2 separate regions of the Homo sapiens genome follow, and region 2 is linked to region 1. Evidence: fine-mapped expression QTL. Tissue or cell type: whole blood. Region 1 holds a variant in brackets; the other region holds the start of a gene. All regions are shown on one strand. Distances are between the middles of the regions.

Region 1 (2,500 bases):
TTTTTTTTTAGAGAACACTCACCAAAGCTCAAGAAGCAGTGACTATTCAGGATGATTACAGAGGTAAGAGAAACTAGGAATTGTTACTAGGAGCACCTGATATATCAAAATGAAATAAATGGCACCCAGCTCTCCTAGCACAAACCCTACCTCTCAGGGGAGTCCAGCAGTCTCTTCCTCCTGATAACATTTTTCCATTTATTCTAGGTCATAGGCCCTACATAGCTATGAGAGGGAGACCAGGAGACTGAATGTGCCTGGCAATAGCTATCTTCCATAGGAATGGCTCATTAAGAATATCATTTCATGTCAGATGGGTAGACTGTATCGAATACCATGAGTGGCAAGGGTTCTGCTTGGCAAGGCTCTGTTTCAAGGACTTTCATGACCTTATGTGATCCAGTACATGCATTCCCCAATTGCAATCACTGCCCACTATCCTCATCATCCAGCTTCAATTGAGATGAGGCATAAAGTAAGTACTGTGGACCCTTCTAGCAGAAAAAATGCAAGAGGAAATCACATGTGAGGCTTTTATGTCTTTACTCTGGGCTGAGCTGGGTTAGACCTAAAGATGGAGAGGAAAAGTGAGTGCCAGGAGTCTTGGAACTGCTAAGGTTTCTATTGCTTCTACTTGGGGGGAAAAATGAAACTGTCAGGTCTGAGGACTGTATTTCTTCCTTTTTTTTTTTTTTGATAGGAACAACATTAAGAAAAACAAATTGATCTGACAGAGAAAACATAAAACTCTCTTAAGGAAGAGTTTACTATAGTAGGGACACATTCCCTAGGGGAAGGGAAGGGAAGCGTCTGCTGAAAAGGATTTTCTTCCCTGGGCTAGAATTACATCCTTGAGGCCTTCCTACATGTTCCAAGGAGGCCAAATCTCTTGTGGTCCTAAACTATTCCTCATTCCACTCCTAATCCCAACAGCCATCCTGGGATAGGAACACTAGCCTCTGGAGAGCAGTGAGGCCTACCAAACCTACACCAGTCAGCCCATATGACATAATTACAGGTAACAGAATCTTGGCCAAGCCAATGAAAAATTAGGCACAGTACCTATTTCAGAAGAATGGATGCAATTCTATGCTTGACTGGCTATGAAAGTTCTAAGGAGAGGAATAGGGAAACAGTCAAGCTAAGCCAGCAGCTTTGCAGAGAGGAATCCCACTGGAGCCAGCACAGTATTGGCACCTATTAGCACATGCTGCTGAGCTCACTTGGGGAAGGCCACCAGTGACTGGAGACTCAGCTACTTCCAGGCGTTAAAAGCTGATAGAGGAAGCCCAGTAGTCAGGGGAAGAAAGGCAATGGGGCAACGTCCCCCATGGTACATTTCTACCTCCACTTTTCTCCTTGTGATGCCACTTTCATTTAGGGGCTGGAATGGGATTTGAGGGCCCTCTCTTCTCTC[T/C]AGGCTTTCTGAAGTACTTCGCAAAGGGCCAGGAGCCCAGAAGTGAAGGGGCTGTAATAGACAGATAACAACCTGGTATTCAGGAACAGCCCGTCTCCAAACAGGAATTTGTTGACCTGAACTTCAAAATTAACTCTTCGCTTATTTAGCAGTCTAATCCACAAAACAGAAACATACCAGAGAGGGAGAGATTTGCAGACTATGTTCAGAGAGTGAAGGGACACGAATGGTTTCTATTTGAACACTAAACATTTTTCAAAACACTCATCATTATCTCATTACCTTTAAATATACTGGCTGGAGAGACAGGGAGACCCAGGCAGGTCAGGGTCCTATAGTAAGTGCACAGTCAGGTTTTGGCTATGGACTTTTTCAATGATAAGCTGATGAATTAGCAGCCATGTGTCCAGTCTTAATACTTCAACAGTTTTCCTCCCACCCTGACAAATGCCAAGCTTGGAGAGCTTTCCTAAAGAACCATAAAGGACAACAAAATAACAGGCCTTCTTCCCATTCTCTAGAATTAGGTCACAAGGAATCAATTAGTTGATTTGACAAATATTTATTTATTGAGTATCTCTTATATACTAGGCACTGGAGTACAAAGACAAAACATGGTTCCTGTCTGTGAGGAGCTTACAAGCTAGTGGGGAGAGACTTGGGTCATAGATCCCTTGTATACTATTGGTAAGTGCACAACAGATACATGCACAGGGTGCTGTGGGAACTGATGGAAGGACATCTCATCTAGCCTGGGAGAGCAAGGGAAGCCTTCCAAGAAAAGGTGGTGCACCTTCCAGAACAGGAGTGAATAGGAAAGCAAGCAAGGGCGATGACTGATGTGCTGGGCCGAAAGTGTAAGTCTACCTGAGAGATGGGAGAAACAAAATGTAATGGTATATATGGTGAACTGCCAGTATAACAGGTCCATTCTGATAAGGCACGAATTACGAAGTGAGTGGGGGTGGTGAGACATAAAGTTGGAGAGGTTATCAAGAATATATGTAAACTGAGATAAGACTTTATCCCAGAGGCAATGGGGAGTTATATTTTTTAAACAAATGCACCTACACAGTCAGATTT
Region 2 (2,500 bases), 32 kb before region 1:
CCCGCTCGCCCTGGCCCCGCTCCGCTCGTCTAGAGGGGGCGGGGAGGAAGCGGCCCGGGGAGGGGGGAGGGGGGAGGGGGAGAGAGGAAGAGAGGAGGAAGGAAGGAGGAAAGAGGAAGACGGGCGGCCGGAGGCGCGGGGCTGCGCGGCGCCGGCCGGCGCGGCGCTGGAAGGCGCCGGCGTTAACCCCGCGAGGCAGGCGACGGAGGGGGAGCGGCGCTAATACATAAGAGCACTGCATCACGCTAATCTTCTCCCAGAACAGTATGCGTCAGCAGTACATTCACGTTCTGACTGAAGGACAAAAGGATGAGAGAGCAGTCTGCGTGGCTGCCGCCTGCAACACCGCGAGCCCGGCGCGAGGAGGAGACGGTGGGCGCCGCGCGCAGGGGCCCCGCTGCTGCTGCTGCCGCCGCTAGCCAGCGGGGACTATGTTCCTGGGCTCCGGAGCGTTTCCCGCAGCCGCGACCCCCGCTGCTCACGCCGCTGCAGCAGTCCGCTGGCGGCGCGGCCACTGAGGGCGCCGGGAGCCGAAGCCGCGAACTCGCTCCCTCCGCACAAAGCCGGAGCCGGCGGCGCGCCGGGGGCCGGGCAGCGGCGGGCGGCGACGGGCGGTTGCGCGCCGCCGGGGGCTGCGGCCGCCGCCGCCGCCGGACCCGCGCCCGCCCCCGGACTCTCTGAAGGGGCCTGCGGTGCGGGCGCGACCGCGGGCGCCGCGCGCTCCTCCGGCCGGCGGACCGGGTCCGAGCGCAGCCGCCACGCCGCTGGTCCTCGGGGGCCGGACGGAGCGCCGCCCCGCGTGCCGGCAGCCGGCGGACTGGAGAACTGACCCCCCGTTTTTGTCTCTTCCACCCTCCGAGAAGAGGCGAGGAGAAAGGGGGTGTGTGTCTGGGGAGGGCGAAGGCGCCGCGAACACCTCCTCTTAACTCTCGCCGCTCCGCGAGCTCACGACCGCAATCAGCTGCCGCCGGCCCGGAGCGGCCGACGCCGGGAGAGGGAGCGCAGCATCCAGCGAGTGCGGCCTGGGCGGCTTCGGGGCGCCCCCGCACTCCCTCCGGCGGCGGCCCGCAGAGCGGGCCGGGGCCGCCGGAGCGCACTTTGGCGATGAAGCGCCTTCCCCCGCGGCTGGAGCGAGCCGGTGCCAGGGTCCAAGGACAAAGCCGGGAAGCGCTGGTGGCGCCGCTCCTTGGGCGGAGGGGGGGGCATGCACCTGCATAGCCCGCCGGGCCTTGGCTCTCCCAGGCGCGCCTCAACTCCGCGGCTTCGCCGGCTCCGGCTCCGGATTTACTAGAGGCCATTTTGTCTCCCCCACCCCTTCCCTCCCCTCCCCTCCCCTCCCCTCTGCCCTCCCCGCCCCCACCACTTCCCCCTTTTGTTAATTAAAACTAAGAAGTCGGAATGGGAACGAGGTGCCCAGCTCCCGTGGAGAAAGCTTAAGGACACCACGCCAGTGCTTTCCTGCCTTCCTTCCGAGGTAGGTGACGGCGAACTGGGTGGGGACGGTTGCAGTGTGGGAGAGTCGTAGCTTTCGGAGGGCTTGCCTTGAGGGTGGGTTGGGAGACCAGGGGCCGCTCGAGTTTGGCAGGATTTTTTTCGGCCGATCCGCTCCGTCTCTCTAATCGCCCCCTCCCCACCTCCTTCTCCAGATGGAAAGAGGAGCTCCTAGCTCACTTAAGCCGGGGTAGGGCTGGTTCTCCTTTCCGAGCCAAAATCCCAGGCGATGGTGAATTATGAACGTGCCACACCATGAAGCTCTTGTGGCAGGTAACTGTGCACCACCACACCTGGAATGCCATCCTGCTCCCGTTCGTCTACCTCACGGCGCAAGTGTGGATTCTGTGTGCAGCCATCGCTGCTGCCGCCTCAGCCGGGCCCCAGAACTGCCCCTCCGTCTGCTCGTGCAGTAACCAGTTCAGCAAGGTGGTGTGCACGCGCCGGGGCCTCTCCGAGGTCCCGCAGGGTATTCCCTCGAACACCCGGTACCTCAACCTCATGGAGAACAACATCCAGATGATCCAGGCCGACACCTTCCGCCACCTCCACCACCTGGAGGTCCTGCAGTTGGGCAGGAACTCCATCCGGCAGATTGAGGTGGGGGCCTTCAACGGCCTGGCCAGCCTCAACACCCTGGAGCTGTTCGACAACTGGCTGACAGTCATCCCTAGCGGGGCCTTTGAATACCTGTCCAAGCTGCGGGAGCTCTGGCTTCGCAACAACCCCATCGAAAGCATCCCCTCTTACGCCTTCAACCGGGTGCCCTCCCTCATGCGCCTGGACTTGGGGGAGCTCAAGAAGCTGGAGTATATCTCTGAGGGAGCTTTTGAGGGGCTGTTCAACCTCAAGTATCTGAACTTGGGCATGTGCAACATTAAAGACATGCCCAATCTCACCCCCCTGGTGGGGCTGGAGGAGCTGGAGATGTCAGGGAACCACTTCCCTGAGATCAGGCCTGGCTCCTTCCATGGCCTGAGCTCCCTCAAGAAGCTCTGGGTCATGAACT

The links. PIP is the estimated chance that this variant, and not a neighbour inherited with it, causes the effect.
Region 2: it holds the start of LRRC4, and the variant in region 1 is fine-mapped to the expression of LRRC4 in whole blood (INTERVAL, PIP above 0.99).

Annotation. Positions count from the first base shown.
Region 1 is chr7:127,997,587-128,000,086 of GRCh38, reverse strand. The region is part of intron 16 of SND1 (staphylococcal nuclease and tudor domain containing 1); the gene reads right to left. SND1-IT1 (SND1 intronic transcript 1) reads right to left here. Exons shown (of 1, transcript NR_027330.1): 1 at 10-2,500. Among named protein-coding and RNA genes, the nearest start is that of SND1-IT1, 1.3 kb to the right of the region's middle. The variant T/C (reference allele first, on the strand shown) is at 1,418.
Region 2 is chr7:128,029,887-128,032,386 of GRCh38, reverse strand. LRRC4 (leucine rich repeat containing 4) reads left to right here and starts at 950. Exons shown (of 2, transcript NM_022143.5): 1 at 950-1,474; 2 at 1,647-2,500. The coding sequence starts at 1,747. The region is part of intron 16 of SND1 (staphylococcal nuclease and tudor domain containing 1); the gene reads right to left. RefSeq lists a silencer at 387-506.